Homo sapiens: one gene and its partners. The protein of the gene in region 1 purifies or fractionates together with the protein of each later gene. This does not show direct contact. Each region holds a gene or a part of one and is shown on either strand. Other genes may lie near its edges. The genes, in order: STK38, PRDM4, ILKAP, RBM34 and MOV10.

Evidence for each region.
Region 2: the proteins of STK38 (region 1) and PRDM4 purify together in Homo sapiens (affinity purification with mass spectrometry; one large-scale study listed by BioGRID and IntAct). This does not show direct contact.
Region 3: the proteins of STK38 (region 1) and ILKAP fractionate together in Homo sapiens (co-fractionation; one large-scale study listed by BioGRID). This does not show direct contact.
Region 4: the proteins of STK38 (region 1) and RBM34 purify together in Homo sapiens (affinity purification with mass spectrometry; one large-scale study listed by BioGRID and IntAct). This does not show direct contact.
Region 5: the proteins of STK38 (region 1) and MOV10 purify together in Homo sapiens (affinity purification with mass spectrometry; one large-scale study listed by BioGRID and IntAct). This does not show direct contact.

Annotation. Positions count from the first base shown.
Region 1 is NC_000006.12:36,498,980-36,502,498, reverse strand, and holds part of STK38 (serine/threonine-protein kinase 38), read left to right. Parts: intron 1-2,508; coding exon 2,509-2,626; intron 2,627-3,519. UniProt on the Homo sapiens protein: Serine/threonine-protein kinase that acts as a negative regulator of MAP3K1/2 signaling. Converts MAP3K2 from its phosphorylated form to its non-phosphorylated form and inhibits autophosphorylation of MAP3K2.
Region 2 is NC_000012.12:107,751,122-107,754,640, reverse strand, and holds part of PRDM4 (PR domain zinc finger protein 4), read left to right. Parts: intron 1-531; coding exon 532-717; intron 718-2,431; coding exon 2,432-3,226; intron 3,227-3,519. UniProt on the Homo sapiens protein: May function as a transcription factor involved in cell differentiation.
Region 3 is NC_000002.12:238,190,192-238,193,710, reverse strand, and holds part of ILKAP (integrin-linked kinase-associated serine/threonine phosphatase 2C), read left to right. Parts: intron 1-3,519. UniProt on the Homo sapiens protein: Protein phosphatase that may play a role in regulation of cell cycle progression via dephosphorylation of its substrates whose appropriate phosphorylation states might be crucial for cell proliferation.
Region 4 is NC_000001.11:235,137,248-235,140,766, reverse strand, and holds part of RBM34 (RNA-binding protein 34), read left to right. Parts: intron 1-2,592; coding exon 2,593-2,676; intron 2,677-2,826; coding exon 2,827-2,890; intron 2,891-3,519.
Region 5 is NC_000001.11:112,691,645-112,695,163, reverse strand, and holds part of MOV10 (helicase MOV-10), read right to left. Parts: intron 3,500-3,519; coding exon 3,365-3,499; intron 2,404-3,364; coding exon 2,235-2,403; intron 1,147-2,234; coding exon 992-1,146; intron 712-991; coding exon 535-711; intron 416-534; coding exon 268-415; intron 1-267.

The DNA of each region.
Region 1 (3,519 bases):
TAAACAGATTAATGTCCTGAATTCATAAAGAATTCCTATGAATCAATAAGAAAAAGGACAACACAACTTAAAAAATACTAATGGACAAAGGATCTGAATAGGAATTCATAATAAAAACCTGGATGGCTAATTAAAATATGAATATGTGCTCAACCCTACTTGAAATAAAGTAAATGCAAATTAAAACAAGATCCCAGCCATGCTGGCACATCCCTACAGTCCCAGCTACTCAGGAGGCTGAGGCAGGAGAATCCCTTGAGGCCAGGATTTCAAGGCTGCAGTGAGCTATGATCATACCACTGCACTCCAGCCCGGGTGACAGAGCAAGACCCCATCTCTTAAAAAGAAAAAAAAAGAGATCCCATTTCATATTCATCAGATTGGTAAAAATAAAAAAAAATCTGACAAAGCCAAGTCTTGATGAGATATGGAGTACCAGAAGCTAATCCCCACCGGGGTTGGTTTAAATAGGGACTAACTACTTTGGAGGACATGGAAGATACCTCAAGTTTAAATGCTTATAACCCAAGGCTCAGCAATATTCTAGTTAATACTCTAGAGGAATGCTTGCACAGTGCCCAAGAAGGTATTAAAAGAATGTTTATTCAGGTGTTATTTGTCATAGTGAAATACTGGAAGCACTGTAACTGTCCATTACAGAAGAACGGATAAAAACTATTGTGACTAATTTATATAACAGTATAGCATACGGCAGAGAAATGAGTGAACTAGAGCTACATGAATAAATCTCAAAACGAATGTTAAGACAAACAAGGCCGGTTGCGGTGGCTCACTCCTGTAATCCCAGTACTTTGGGAGGCTGAGGTGGGTGGATCACTTGAGGTCAGGAGTTTGTGACCAGCCTGGCCAATGTGGTGAAACCCTGTCTCTACTAAAAATACAAAAAATTAGCCAGGTGTGGTTCATCTCAAAAAAAAAAAAAAAGACAAATGATCTGAGACAAATATGGCAAATTATTAATCTTTTTAATGTGGGTAATGGGTCTGTATTGTATTGTCTGTTCCTTTTTTCTGTATGTTTGTAATATTTCATAATACATGTTTTAAAAACAATACAACTGTAATTTAAAAAATTATATAATATTTAAAGCACCTAGATCAGAGCCTTACACATGGAAGCCCTCAAATGTTAAGTACATTAGGAGGCTTTGATTGTACTTTCTCCTCTTATTTTGCAGTCCTGGTATGTTAGAGTAGAATACTGGAATGCAGAAAATGTTTCTCTTGGTCAGGTGCGGTGGCTCACACCTGTAATCCCAGCACTTTGGGAGGCTGAGGTGGGAGGATCACTTGAGCCAGGAGTTAAAGACCAGTCTGGGCAAGATGGCAAAACCCCATCTCTACAAAAAAATTAAAAAATTAGCCAGGTGTGGTGGCATGCACCTGTGGTCCTAGCTACTATGGTGGCTGAGGTGGGAGGATCTCTTGAGCCTAGGAGTTTGAGGTGAGCCATCATCGTGCCACTGCACTCCAGCCTGGGCCCACAAAGGGAGACCCCCATTTCTTAGAAAAAGAAAACATTCCTCCAAGAACTATATACAAAAACAATTAAGTTTGGTAAATAGGTATTTATAAATGTTTAAGTTATAGGATATAACTTTAGCTTTTGATCATATAGCTTCCCTTTATGATTGTGTCAAATCAAAGAATGTGTATCATAGAAAGAGGGATGGTTTGGAGTAAGATACTATAATTCCTATTTTTTTTTTTTTTTTTTTTTGAGACAGAGTCTCACTCTGTCGCCAGGCTGGAGTGCAGTGGCACGATCTCGGCTCACTGCAACCTCCGCCTCCCGGGTTCAAGCGATTCTCCTGCCTCAGCCTCCCGAGAAGCTAGGACTACAGGTGCACACCACCACGCCCAGCTAATTTTTGTATTTTTAGTAGAGACGGGTTTTCACCATGTTGGCCAGGATGGTCTCCATCTCTTGACCTCGTGATCCGCCCACCTCAGCCTCTCAAAGTGCTGGGATTACAGGCGTGAACCACCACTCCCGGCCAGATATTTAATTTTTAAACTGGGCTCTACCACCTAACTAGTTCTGCGGTCTCAGGCAAAGCCATTTTGAGCATCAAATTGTATCTGCAAAGTTAAGCTAATAAGGTCCTCCTTGGAAAAGTTTTGTCAGGATTAAATGGACTCATGTATATGAAGTTATATATATATATAAAACTCATGTAATATATATATTAAGTACAGAGCCTAGTACTTAATGGGTGCTCAGTAAATTGTAATACCAGTTATTATGACACAGATGCCTTCGCCCTAGTGACTCATAGTTAAGGGTCTCCTGCCTCATGAACAAAGCTTTATTGTTCATTTTGGAAAGTGCTTTGGGAAATCGAGCTTGCCATTAAGCTACTGGGCAGTCCTGCTTATTTAGCTTGGGGGTAGCTTCTGATGTTACTCATAGCCTTTGGTTTCTAGAACAGAACTCTGGGCACCTCCTGCCTGGCTGGGCCTCGCTGATGTGTGGTCCATGTTTCAGGCCTTCTCCACAGTAGGCACTCCTGACTACATTGCTCCTGAGGTGTTCATGCAGACCGGGTACAACAAGCTCTGTGATTGGTGGTCGCTTGGGGTGATCATGTATGAGATGCTCATCGGTAAGTTGCATGGTTTCAGAGGACTTTTTCTGTGCATCCATGACAGACTTTTACATTGATACCAGCCTCTGTTTCAATTGGCAGTGATCTAAGTGATTTCCCTACTTGTCTTTCAAAGTGAATTGTTTTAGACAGATGACACCTCTTTCAGTAAGATGTATCCCACTCCATTCTTGGGCTTACTGGCATCCTGCAATTGCTTTGCTGATCATTTTTTATGTTTTTCTTTCTCTTATACCTTCATCTTCTCCATCTAGAAGCTCTTTTAGTCACTAGCATTTATTAAATATCCGTTGTATGCAGAGCACTTCAACTGGGCATTGCCTCACTTTCCTAATTTGCCGCCCCCTTCCTCTGTCAAAGCCTTCAAATCATGGGACCCTCTGGCCTCTCTCCCTCTTATTGTATTGGTGTGTCTCTGTATTTATGGGACGCATCTGTGGGGGTGGTCATATGCCAGTGAGCACTAGATTAAGTATATCCTTGGTGGTTCCGGGTGAGTCTATCTGGCTGCTTTGGCTTCAGGAACATGGGAACGATGCCTGTGGAGGTGGGCGTACACCGTCTGGAGGGAAGATGGGGTGATAGGGTGTGTGCGTGTTTGTCTTCTTGCCTGTAGTTCTCAAAAAGAGGCATGGTGGTCATTTTTAAAATCTATGCTTTTTTCTTATTCAAGTTATTTGGTACTTTACCCATATAAGGGTATTTCTGGAATGATATTGTTTCATCCTTTCATTTCTTCTTTGGGCATGGTGATTCCCACACCTGCAACTCTATTTATGTCCTCCTTTCTTTTCCCAGCTCTACCTATTAGCTGACTTCCTAGTGGTACCAGAGGCATGATTTCACTTTGGGTCTGGGAGTTTGGGGGAAAATGAAAAATAGGTTTAGGT
Region 2 (3,519 bases), on another chromosome or scaffold:
GAGGCTGAGGTGGGCAGATCACTTGAGGCCAGGAGTTCGAGACCAGCCTGGCCAACATGGTGAAACCCTGTCTCTAGCAAAAATACAAAAATTAGCTGGGTGTGGTGGTGTGTGCCTGTAATCCCAGCTACTCAGGAGGCTGAGGTAGGAGAATTGCTTGAACCCAGGAGGCCGAGATTGCAGTGAGCTGAGATCACACCACTGCACTCCAGCCTGGGCAACAAAGCAAGACTCCGTCTCAAATCAATCGATAAATTAATTAATTAAATATTTTTGTATTTAAGCGCAATACAGACAATTGGAGTATCAACTTGCCGGTTTAGAACTAACTTAAAAACTATCTTTGGGACTAAGACTACTTTCTTTAGGCTTATTTGTGGATATTTGCACATTATCTAAGGATGAAAAGGGCTAGTAGGTGAGATTTTTGCCCATGTGTAAAAACCTTTCTAAGAGTTTAGCCAGTGGTTGTAGTGAGAATTTTTAATTACCTATTTTCTTTTAACTGAGAAAAAAAATTTTGTTTTGTAGGCCTCCCAGTGGCAATTCCAAACCTGGGTCCCTCCCTGAGCTCTCTGCCTTCTGCTCTGTCTTTAATGCTACCAATGGGTATTGGGGATCGAGGGGTGATGTGTGGGTTACCTGAAAGAAACTACACCCTACCTCCACCACCTTACCCTCACCTGGAGAGCAGTTATTTCAGAACCATTCTACCTGGTAAGTGTTACAGTTACTTGAGATGTTAGAGAAAAAGAACGGCGCCAGCTTTTAAACTTTTATCCTGAAGATATGAATAACACTTTTTTCTGTTTGTCACTATTAGATATTAATCTCTAGGCAGGAAAAGTATCTTTGTTTATATTTATGTACTTTTCCTCTTAGAATGTGGCACATAACACATTAGTAATACAGTTTGACTAAGCTGAATTTCTTAATTGCACATAATTTTTCTTCTTTCTCCTCCAGTATCTCTTTCATTTGGTGTTTATAATTCTACAGCTATAATTTCAGTCAAGCACTATAGTGTCTTGTTATAGTGTCATGTTTTTTAAGTTCATTGAATTTTTATTCTGTTATAGGAGTATTATATGCTTATTGCGGAAAATTTAGCAAATAAGGGAAGGAACCACTCAGTCCCATCATCCATCTTTTTGGTGTACTTCCTTCCTGCCATTTGTTTTGGTGTATAGGTTTTTACCAATTTTCATAATTAAGACCACGGTTTCTTCTCTTGCTCTCTTTTTTCTTTTCTTTTTTTTTTTTTTCTTTTAATGGAGACGGAGTCTCAACTATTTTGCCCAGGCTGGACTGGAACTCCTGGACTCCAGTGATTCTCTCACCTCAGACTCTTGAGTAGCTTGGAATACAGGCACATGCCTGCCTTGAGACCATACCATATTTCATTTCTTTTTTATAAATAACTTTTTTAAAAAAAGAGATGGGGTTTTGGCATGTTGCCGAGGCTGGTCTCGAACTCCTGCGCTGAAGCCATCCGCCCACGTCAGCATCCCAAAGTGCCGGGATTACAGGCATGAGCCACTGTGCCCTGCCCAAGACCATACTTTCTATACGATTGTCTGTCTTTACTTTTTTCACTTTATCTTTTTCTCTGCTGTTACATGGGTATTTTCCTTTGCTGCTACGTGGTTTTCATAATTATCCTTTTTAATGATGCATTACTTTCTACTGAATGGGTATTTGATGGTTTATTATCTTTATTGTTGGACAGTTTGGTTTTTCCAGTTTTTATTACCATTGTAACTAATGCTCTTATGAACGTCTTTATGTATAATATTTACAAAATGGATTTAGAGAAGAGTACCTTAAGTGGAATTTCTTGTGCAAGAGGGTATTAACATTTTTGAGGCTCCTAATATATATGCTTCACAAAGAAGTTTTAGCAGTTTACATTCCCTCTGGCAGTTTAGTAAGTATCATTTCACCATATCCTCCCAAGCACAAGTGTTAATTTTTTTTTGTTTTAATAAAACAGGTACAATTGTGACTTGTATTAAATAGTTTGTGTTATGATAGTTTAATTATATTAAATTATATTTAATTAAGTTTTATTTTTCACATGGAAGATCTGTTTTTAAATCATTTTACCTTTTAATAATTAGGAGAGCAAATTTTACACCTTAGGACTCAGGAATTGCAACCATATGTATATTAAAAGCAGTGTTTTCGTTAGTGATTCCCAGTTAGCTTCAAAGGAACATAGTTAACTTTTTTAGGATTTTCGAGTTTTACAGGAAAAACTCAATTACGGTATATGTATGTTGCTATTTATAAAATAGTGTGTATCGATTAAATTAAAGAAGCAGGAGATTATTTGAACTTAGTTATGTTTGTAAGGAAATAGCGTCTAGTGCTTGGAATTCTTTAATAATGTACTAAAAGTCTCTGATATCTCATCTTTTCCTTTTCTCAGGCATTTTATCTTATTTAGCTGACAGACCACCTCCACAGTACATCCACCCTAACTCTATAAATGTTGATGGTAATACAGCATTATCTATCACCAATAACCCTTCAGCACTAGATCCCTATCAGTCCAATGGAAATGTTGGATTAGAACCAGGCATTGTTTCAATAGACTCTCGCTCTGTGAACACACATGGTGCCCAAAGTCTTCATCCCAGTGATGGCCATGAGGTGGCCTTGGACACAGCAATCACTATGGAGAACGTTTCTAGGGTTACCAGCCCAATTTCGACAGATGGAATGGCAGAGGAGCTTACGATGGACGGTGTTGCAGGCGAGCATTCCCAAATCCCAAATGGCTCCAGAAGTCATGAACCTCTGTCTGTGGATTCTGTGAGCAACAACCTTGCAGCAGACGCTGTAGGACATGGTGGTGTGATACCCATGCATGGGAATGGCCTGGAGCTCCCTGTGGTCATGGAGACAGACCACATTGCAAGTCGGGTCAATGGCATGTCTGACAGTGCCCTCAGTGACTCCATTCACACTGTGGCCATGAGCACCAACTCTGTAAGCGTGGCACTCTCTACCTCACACAACCTTGCCTCCCTAGAATCTGTTTCCCTCCATGAAGTTGGCCTCAGCCTAGAACCTGTGGCTGTCTCCTCCATCACCCAGGAGGTTGCTATGGGGACAGGTCATGTAGATGTATCTTCAGACAGTCTTTCTTTTGTATCACCTTCACTGCAAATGGAAGACTCCAATTCAAACAAGGAGAACATGGCAACCTTGTTTACAATTTGTGAGTGTGTTTAGCCTTTCTTTTTTGGAAATATTTGTAAAAAGGGCCACCATCCCTAACAAGTTAAGTCGTAAAGTTTGGCATTAAGGGAGTATAGAAAGCAACTAGACCTTGGAACTTTTCTTTGCCTTGGTATTGTCCTTTATATTAATGTGGTGCCTTTTCTTCAAGTAAGCCAAATGATATACATACATTTAGTTGGTTCTTAGAGCATCCTCCTGAAGAAATGAAATGTGAAGTAGTCATTTTTGTATTTTGCAGATAAGCTTAGCACATGCGGTAGTGTGTGCCTG
Region 3 (3,519 bases), on another chromosome or scaffold:
TCCCATTTCGTATGCAGGTATATTTTCTATATTTTAGGAAAAGTACTCCAGTCATCTTATATAAGAATTCTCAATCTTCAGGGCTGTAGACCCATACCAAAAAATTGCAGCATCCTCACACTCACAGTGTGGCCTGAAACCTTCCCAATAAAGATAGTACCCTTAGTTGTAATGAAAGTTAATATGTTCTGGCTGGGCGTGGTGGCTCACGCCTATAATCCCAGCACTTTGGGAAGCCAAGGCGGGTAGATCACTTGAGGTCAGGAGTTCAAGACCAGCCTGGCCAACATGGCGAAACCCTGTCTCTACTAAAAATACAAAAATTAGCCAGGCATGGTGGCATGTGCCTGTCGTCCCAGCTACTCAGGAGGCAGAGGCAGGAGAGTCGCTTGAACCCAGGAGGCAGAGGTTGCAGTGAGCTGAGATCACGCCATTGCACTCCAGCCTGGGTGACAGAGAAAGACTCTGTCTCCAAAAAAAAGGAAAGTTAATATGTTCAAAGAAGGCTGTTAAGGGATTTAATAGAAGAAATGAAGATACAGCATAGCTGTCTCTTATTTATCTACAGGACAAAAGGCAAAGTAGTAAAAAATTTAGAAGATTTACATAACACTATTAACAAGCTTAATTTTTTGGATATATAATCTTGGGTCTAGTGTTTTAGATTTCTAGAGAAGTTAACACATTTTTTTTTTCTTGAGACGGAGTCTCACACTCTCACCCAGGCTGGAGTGCAGTGGCACAATCTTGGCTCACTGCTACCTCCACCTCCCGGGTTTAAGCGATTCTCCTGCCTCAGCCTCCTGAGTAGTTGGGACTACAGGCGTGTGCCACCATGCCTGGCTAATTTTTGTATTTTTAGTAGAGACAGGGTTTTCCCATATTGGCCAGGCTGGTCTCGAACTCCTGACCTTGTGATCTGTCCGCCTCAGCCTCCCAAAGTGCTGAGATTACAGGCGTGAGCCACTGCACCCAGCCGATAACACATTCTTTTTTTTTTTTTCCTTTTTTGAGACTGTCTCTCTCTCTGTTGCCCAGGCTGGAGTGCAGTGGCGCGATCTCAGCTCAGTGCAAGCTCTGCCTCCCAGGTTCATGCCATTCTGCTGCCTCAGCCTCCCAAGTAGCTGGGACTACAGGCTCCCGCCACCACGCCCACCTAATTTTTTTGTATTTTTAGTAGAGATGGGGTTTCACCATGTTAGCCAGGATGGTTTCCATCTCCTGACTTCGTGATCCGCCTGCCTCGGCCTCCCAAAGTGCTGGGATGACAGGTGTGAGCGACCTTGCCCGGCCCGATAACACATTCTTAAGCGGGCAGGAACCATTTACAAAAGTTGATTATGTACTAAGCCATAAAATAAGCCTCAATGATCTGTTTCTTGTACAGACTACATTCTCAGACTACAGTGTAATTTGCTTAGAAGTCAATAACAAACCTGTAAGGTGTCTTTATTTTGAAATTTTATTATTTTTCTTTTTTTCTTTTTCTTTTTCTTTTTTTTTTTTTAAGACAGTCTCACTCTGTTGGCAGGCTGGAGTGCAGTGTTGCGATCTCAGCTCACTGCAACCTCTACTTCCCGGGTTCAAGTTCCTGTCTAAGCCTCCCGAGTAGCTGGGACTATAGGCACCTGCCACCACACCCAGCTAATTTTTTGTATTTTCAGTAGAGACGGGGTTTCACCATGTTGGCCAGGATGGTCTCAATCTCTTGACCTCATGATCCGCCTGCCTCTGCCTCCCAAAGTGCTGGGATTACAGGCATGAGCCGCTGCGCCTGGCCTTTTTCTTTTTCTTTTTTTTTTTTTTGAGATGGAGCCTTGCTCTGTTGCCTAGGCTGGAGCGCAGTGGCGAGATCTCAGCTCACTGCAGCCTCCGCCTCCTGGGTTCCAGTGAGTCTCGTGCCTCAGCCTCCCGAGTAGCTGGGATTACAGGCGCTACCATGCCCGGCTAATTTTTTGTATTTTAATTAGAGACCGGGTTTCGCCATGTTGGTCAGGCTTGTCTTGACCTTCTGACCTTAGATGATCTGCCCATCTCAGCCTCCCAAAGTGCTGGGATGACAGGTGTGAACCACCACACCTGGCCATCTGTTTTGGAATTTTAAAGGAAGAAAGTTTCACATCCATATGGGGAAAACTGGAACCCATACAGTAAGCCACAGGACACTAATGGGGACCTTTGGGAGAGATACTGTTGGAAACATCTGTGTTGCCTTATGCAGGGTGCATATGTGTATTATGTTATACTGTTGCAGAAATAGGGCCTTGTGCAACTAATTTACGCTTCTTGAGGGCAGGAACATTTTCATTACTTTTTCCTCAGCACTAAGAAATGTCTGACACAGGCGGTTCAAGACCAACCTACCCAACATGGTGAAACTCCGTCTCTACTAAAAATACAAAAATACAAAAATTAGCTGGGTGTGATGGTGCACTCCTGTAGGCTGAGACAGGAGAATTGCTTGAACCCTGGAGGTGGAGGTTGTAGTGAGCTGACGTTGCGTCACTGCACTCGAGCCTGGGCGACAGAGTAGACTCCGTCTCAAAAAAAAAAAAAAGACACCTTGTGTTTACCAAAAAAATTAAAAAATTAGCCGGGTGTAGTGGTTCCTGCTTTCAGTCCCAGCTGCTCAGGAGGCTGAGATGGAAGGATCACTTGAACACAGGAGTTGGAGGCTGCAGTAAACTGTGATCATGCCACTGCATTCTAGTCTGTGTGACAGAATGAGACCCTGTGTCAAAAACAAAAAGAAGAAGAAATGTCTGGCAAAGAGTAGGTTGAGTAAGTAAATAAGTACTTGCATCCTTTTTTTTTTTTTTTTTTTTTTTTTTTTAAAGAGAAACGTCTTACTACTTTGCCCAGGCAGGTCTCAAATGCCTGGGCTGAAGTGATCCTTCTGCCTCAGTCTCCAGAAGTAGCTGTGACTGCAGGCATGTGCCACTGCATCTGGCTGTTGCATACTTTTATACCTAAATGCAGAGAACATTTCAAGTCATTTATTAGGACAGCAGCTGCCCTTATTGGAGATTGATGTGTTAGGCACTGTGACAAATGCTCTTCCTACTTGTCCTGACCCATTTTCAAACATCCCTCTGAGATGACAGTATTCTTACCATGTTACGCACGGGTGAAGACAGCTGAGACTGAAAGATTAAGTTGCACACCTCTTTGAAACTTGACTTTTCTCATTTCAAACACATACACTGCAGATTCCCTTAGCTTTGAGTACAGATTCATCCTTTTGCTAGTGGGAACAGCTGTGGCAGCCTTATTTTGCCTTTGAAAGGATGTATTACAGTTCTTAAAGGCTGCCATTTACCTCATTTTGAGCCTTTTCGAGTACTTGTTACTTTTTGGAACGTGATTAGGATATGTTAGTTTGCTTACAGATTTTGTAAGTGTTTGTTTAACACTAAGAGCCTGTGGATATAAAAACATGTATATGCTACAGGCCAAAAAAAACCATGTATTTTTACCACTGGGAAAAGTCTTTTACAAACCCCTTCAGCAGGGTCAGTT
Region 4 (3,519 bases), on another chromosome or scaffold:
ACCAGACTCGGGAGCCCAGCTGGCTTCACCCAGTGGATCCTGCACCGGGGCTGCAGGTGGAGCTGCCTGCCAATCCCATGCCGTGCGCCTGCACTCCCCAGCCCTTTGGTGGTCGATGGGACTGGGCGTCGTGGAGCAGGGGGTGGCGCTCCTCGGGGAGGCTCGGGCCGCACAGGAGCCCATGGAGGGGGTGGGAGGCTCAGGCATAGCGGGCTGCAGGTCCCGAACCCTGCCCTGCGGGAAGGCAGCTAAGGCCCGGTGAGAAATCGAGCGTAGCGCCAGTGGGTTGGCACTGCTGGGGGACCCAGTACATCCTCCGCAGCCACTGGCCCGGGTGCTAAGCCCCTCACTGCCCGGGGCCGGCAGGGCCTGCAGGGCCGGCCGGCTGCTCCGAGTGCGGGGCCCGCCAAGCCCACGCCCACCTGGAACTCCAGCTGGCCCGCAAGCGCCGCGCAGCCCTGGTTCCCACTCGCGCCTCTCCCTCCACACCTCCCTGCAAGCTGAGGGAGCCGGCTCCGGCCTTGGCCAGCCCAGAAACGGGCTCCCACAGCGCAGCGGTGGGCTGAAGGGCTCCTCAAGTGCCGTCAAAGTGGGAGCCCAGGCAGAGGAGGTGCGGAGAGCAAGCGAGGGCTCTGAGGACTGCCAGCACGCTGTCACCTCTCAAGAAGAATCCAGGTGGGGCTTTGTGCCTTTCCCACACTTTGGCCATTCCGTCCTCCAGGCCTGCAGCACCCATAGCTGCGATCTCAGCCTTTCCCAGGGAGTGGAGGTCAGTGGGGCAGATCCTGAGGATGGGCGCACACTCCTGCCTCGGCAGCTTCCAGGACTTCTGTTTCAGGCCCAGCCCACGCTGAGCTCTAGTGTTTTAGTGAGATCATGGCTGGAATCTTTCCTGCTTGTCTGGTGCCCAGCATTTTGCCCCTGTGCTCGGCCATCGTAGAGCCAGAAGAGCCAGTGCTTCCTCTGTCTCTCATTGGAGGAAGCAGGCCTGTCCTTAGCTTCTAGCTGCTGGCTTTCCCCAAGACTTCAGCTCTGTGATGGCTGCAACAAAAGTTATGATGCTGTGGGTTATCTGGTTTCTTCTTAACTGGTAAGAGCAGGAGTGATGCACTTTCTGGCTTTTTACATTCTAGGTGGAAGCGGAACTCCAGCATTTGTTCCTGGGGGTGCACTAGGATGTGTTGGATTTGGATGTTGTCGGCAGCTGTGTGTTGTGTGAAGAGCAGGGCTCTAGAGTCAGCTAGACTTGGTTTCAGTCCTAGGCCAGCCACTTGTTGCCATTTCATCGCAGTCACGTACCTCTTCCAGTCTCAGCTTCCTTATTCATAAAATCAGAAAAAAAACACCGTGTTGGAGATGTGAGATTAAATGAAATACATAAAATGTCTAGCTGAGTGTCTGGTATATATTAGGCATTCAGTAAATCACAGCTGGTTTAATCAATACAAAAGCATTAGTATAGTGTATTATTACAGAATGCCATCAGTCATGTCAGGCACTATTTTCCAGTTCCCTTCTTGATGATACTCATTTGTGTAGTAGCATTTTTCTTACTTCAAAACAGTAGGTTGATGTCTTCAGGGAAAGATCTGTGTTCATTACTAGGTCCTTTTTGCTAACTCCTCACATCCAAATTATATCACCATTTTGCAAACCTAGTGACTTAATGAGTTTAGGCATTTAGTAGCAGCAGCTGCAGTCATTGACAAAAGGGTAAAAACCAGTCATAACATGACTCCCTGGAAAGAACACAACACCCACCAGCAGTCGCGACAAAGGGGTCATGTCTGAGTCTGATCCATCCTTTTGATGCAGCTGCCAGTTTACAAGAAATATAGAGGACAAAGGTTTGTGTTAAACTACTTGATGAGCTTGCAGTCACAAAATCCAGGCTGTGGGGAATTCTGCAGGCCAAATAGTGAGAGATAAAGAGATACAGAGAAAACTCTGTAAATTAAACAAGATTCAAAAGACATATCAGGTCAAAAGTATAGACAAGACCAAAGTATGATGTCTAAGAATAGACACTTGGTTGATAAAACCACAAAGATGTGCAGGGAAGTAGTTCCTATAAAAATGGGAATGGTGGTTGCCTTTGGAGGGAAGGAGGGGCTGCAACGGGAAAGGGCCACAGAGAGGCTTCTGAGTGGGCTACAAGGCACGTTGAGCTGTTGTTAATTCACTCAGCTATACGTAGTTTGTGCACTCTTCTATATGGGTGTTTCACAGTAAAGAGGAAAACTCACGTCTTTCACAACTGTTTATATGTGTGTTAGATACGGACTGCAGCTAAGATGTCAGTTTTTAGTTCTTGTATGGTTCTCAGGGATTCATATACATGGTTCATCTGTTTTCTCATGGTTATGATTCCTAAGAAAGTATGGGTTGTGTCTCCACTAATATCTTTATAAGTTGTGTGTTATTTTTTGAGTTATTACTAAATATTTATTCAAAGAGATGAAATGTCCACCCAGGAATTCTTGTCATGTGTGTTAAGAGTTGAAAACAGCTAGATTTTTTTCTAGTGACTTTGAGGCTAAGAAATTTACCTTGTCTCTCTTTTCTTTCTTTCTTTTTTTTTTTTTGGTGTAGACGTAAAATTCATCCTGATCAGAAAAATATTAATGCCTATGTTGTGTTTAAGGAGGAGAGTGCTGCCACGCAAGCATTGAAAAGGTAATTTTATCCCTTAGGTTTGAACAGAATAATTGTCCTATAAGTATGTATGAGTACTTTTTTTATTCTTTGGTTTCACTTTAGCATAGATGTTTTAGTAATCGAGTGCTCATTTTTAACAACCATTTTCCCTTTGTATTTATAATACAGAAATGGGGCCCAGATTGCAGATGGATTTCGTATTAGAGTTGATCTCGCATCTGAGACCTCATCTGTAAGTAGTACTTGATTTGTTTAAAGAACGAGAGCTTTGTAGAGAGAAATGTTTCCTTCCAGGCTTTTCCTGGAAGGGGACTGGAATCAGCAATGTGAGGGAAGCGCAGAAGGAAACAGCCTATGTCCTCTGTGGTTACAGAGTTGATGGCAAGAGAGGCACAAGGACCGAGGTCAACATTCCCTTCAAAAACGTAGTCCTGGCTGGGCACAATGGCTCATGCCTGTAATCCTAACATTTTGGGAGGCCAAGGCGGGAGGATCACTTGAGCCCAGGAGTTAAGAGCAGCCTGAGCAATGTAGCAAGACCCTGCCTTTACAAAAAAAAAAAAAAAAATTAGTCAAGTGTGTGATGCATGCCGACAGTCCCAGCTACTCAGAAGGCTGAGGTGGGAGCACCACCTGAGCCCAGGAGTTTGAGGCTGCAGTGAGCTGTAGTCGTGCCACTGCATTCTAGCCTGGGCAACAGAGGGCGACCCTGTTTCTTAAAAAGAAACAAAAACATAGTCCTCTTCAAATAAGCATAATTAGGTCAGAAGGTACATTAGACATCATCTGGTCTAACACATTATAGACCGAGGTCTAGAAAGTTCAATTATTCATTAGACAGTTTTTAGTACACACTCTGTC
Region 5 (3,519 bases), on another chromosome or scaffold:
AGCCTCAAGTGCCCAGCTATTTTTCATATTTTTCATAGAGATAGGGTCTTGCAATATTGTCCAGGCTGGTCTTGAACTCCTTGGGCTAGTCTTCCCCAAGTGCTGAGATTACAGGCATGAGCCACTGCACCCGGCCCCTACCTCTCTTTCTGATGGCTGCTTAGAAGCAGGAGCATTTCGGGAGTGGGAAGGAACTAGAATCTGGGGACAACTGCTTGGTGCTGGGGGAATCAGAGTGCAGGCCCCAGGTTTGTGCTCAGACCCCACCTGCTTAATTGCCTCCACTAACGTGACAGTCTTGCCGGTGCCTGGAGGCCCAAAGATGATGTAGGGGGCTGGACGGGTGGTGCCCGTAACAATGTGCCTCATGGCCTGCAGCTGCTCTGGGTTTGACTCCAGACTCCGGTCGTACAGCCTGGCAGAGGGACCAGGAATGTGAACTTGAAGTCATCCAGTGACCCAGAGGCCTCCCTGACTCCACCCCCTGTGCCCACACTCCAAGTGGCTCCAGAAGCTCCCTGCCCACAGTCTCACTTGAGTTTCACATCTGAGGGCAGCAGCGGGACGTCCCGAGGTGCCACAGGAAAGAGCATGGGCCACAGCAGCCAGCGCCCTGTCAGCTCCAGGGCACGGTGCTGGACTCGCAGCGGCTGGCGGTTGAAGGTAAAGTTCACCTTGAAGGTCAGCCCATCCACAAAGCGGCTCAGGAGGCTTTGGGCAGAGAGAGGTGGTAAGAGTTTGTTGGGGCAGGGGAGGTGGGCAATAAAGGGCCAGAACTTTCTCCACCAACCAGTGTCCCAACCCCTCTTTCCAAGACCTCTATGCAAGTTCTCTAGAAGAGGAAGCTGCCGTAGCATCTCAGGGTACCCCTGAGGAAAAGTCTCCTGCTCTGCCCCGGGGTCTCATTTATCTCAGGGAGAAACACTCCTCCTCCCCTGGGGTCAGAAGTCTGTAGACCCTTCCAGCAGCTCAGGGTTCCCCCAACACCCACCTCATGGAAAAGCTCAGCTTGACACGGTCCAATTCCACCTTGTGCACAAAGCCCTTATATGTGATGGGGTCCTCCTGGTGTGTCTCCGAGGACAAAAGGGCAAACAGGTGGTCGCCCCGTAGCACTGAGGGGCGGCTCTCAGTCACTCCAGGAACCTATGGGGTGTGAACACAAGCAAGCTTCTGTCCCAGGGATGGACGCTGGAGGGCCCAGCCCCCAGGTTCCCCAGACCTTTAAGGGACAAGGACTGAGACTGGCCTTCTAACCTAAGACTCAGGGAGTTATGCTATCCCTGCACCCCTCTTTCCTTTCATACCAGCAGGAGTCAGGGGAAGAGGAAGAAGACAAATCCTCCGAAGCTGCCCAGAGATGCCGAGCCCAGGAACCCGGAGCCTCCAGTGCAGCTGCCCTCTTGGCCAGCTCAGTTCCTGCTCTGCCTATAAAAATCCTGTTCATCAGTTAATCGGGTTGCTAAAAAAATAATTAAAAAAAAAAAAAAAAAAAAACGGACCAGGCATGGTGGCTCACGCCTGTAATCCCAGCACTTTGGGAGACTGAGGCAGGCGGATCACTTGAGTCCAGGTGTTGCGAGACCAGCCTGGCCAATGTGGCAAAACCCCATCTCTACAAAAAATACAAAAATTAGCCAGGCGTAGTGGGGCATGTCTGTGGTCCCAGCTACTTGGGAGGATCACTTGAGCCCGGGCGGCGGGGATTAAAGCGAGCCAAGATCATGCCATTGCACTCCAGCCTGAGCACCAGGGTGAGACCCTGTCTCAAAACAAAAACAACAACAACAAAAAACTTGTTCAAAACTCACTTCCTGCAGTAATCTTTCCTTGAACAAACTCACCCTCTAATTCCCACCTGCAATTGTGTGTAGAAATCCATTCTCGTGTGTAATTTTGGGCTTATATGCACACATTGAAAATCCAAGAGCCAGAAAGAGCTCTAAGAATTATCCAGTCCAGCTCTGTGCTTTTCAGATAAGGGAACTAAGGCTTAGAGAAAGCCAGGGACTTACCCAAGGTGGTAGCAAAGCCTGGACTAGAACCCAGATCTTCCCCATTTCCCTGCTCCAACACATCTTTGGGCACAGGATGCCCACCCTGCTTCTTGCGGAGCCCTGGGAACCACTTCAACTTTCCTCTTGTTCTGCCCTGCTGTCAGGAATAGTTCTGCCCACAGCCTCTAGCTTGGCTGGCTTGAGCCCACCCTCCTCACACTCAATCTGAGCCCTGACCTCCAGCGTGAGCAGCCTGGGGTTCTGGTCCACAGGGTCCCAGGTCATGGGCACCGACTCCAGGTCATAGTGCCGGATATCATGCTCCATCTGCAGTTCCTCCAGGTGCAGCAGCAGCCGCAGCTTCACCTCATAGTTCCTCCACTTCAGGGCTGTCTCCAGCTGGGCCCTGGAAATGATGGTTGGGAGGGGTGAGTGGGGGCAGGAACAGGATGGGCCAGACAACCCCTATGCCCAGGAGTATCCACCTTCTCCCACCTGAAGCTCTGGAACTAGCGTCAAAAAGCAGAGAAGACTAGAGGGATACAGAAGTGGATGAGAGTCAGAGGCCCTGAAGAAGGAAGCCTTGGCTCCTGCTTCCTTGGATGCCCCTGCCCCCACCTCACCCGACTTGCATTTGCATGGTGGCTCTTATGGCCAGAACATTCTCCTCCAATCCTCTCATGACTCCCACCCTCACCTCATTCAAATGTCCTTCTCTGTTCAAACATCACTACCTCAAACAGGCCAGGACTAACTGGCCTTCTGCAAAGCAGCACCAACCCATTCCCTAACCCTGCTTTAGTTTCAGTATAGTTCTGTTCATCTTTTTTAGAGACAAGATCTTGCTCTGTCACCCATGCTGGAGTGCAGTGGCATGATCTGGGCTCACTCACTGTGTCCTCAACCTCCTGGGCTCAAGAAATTCTCCCACCTCTGCCTCACAAGTAGCTGGGACTACAGACATGTGCCACCACACTTGGCTAATTAAAATTTTTTTTTGTAGAGACAGAATCTCACTATGTTGCCCCAGGCTGGTCTTGAACTCTTGGGCTTAAATGATCCACCTGCCTCGGCCTCCCAAAGTGCTGAGATTACAGGCATGAGCCACTTACACCTGACCTGTTTAGTTCTTCACAGCACTCATCACTCCATGAAATTGTAACAAAAATGCTCATTGTCCCCCATTAAAATGAGCCAGGCCTTCATTTGACTGGTTCACCTTGAATGGTGCTTGGTGTATGGTGCGTGCTCAGTAAGGGAATGAATGAATACAGCCTGGGAGGCTGAGGACGGAGGTGCCAGGGCAATGCAAAGAAGCCAGTAGGTAAAAGACGGGAGAGTGCGGGGTGCAGAGGGATGGTACTTACTTGATCTCTGCGATCTCCTTAGGGGCAGTGAAGATACTTGTTCCCTGAAGAAGCATGGGGAGCAGCTGCCTGAGGCGGGGAGGTGGGTAGTATGTCCCCAGCGCCATACTTAACTCCAGGTCATAGCCCTTAGCGCTGCAGAATCGAGGGAAGAA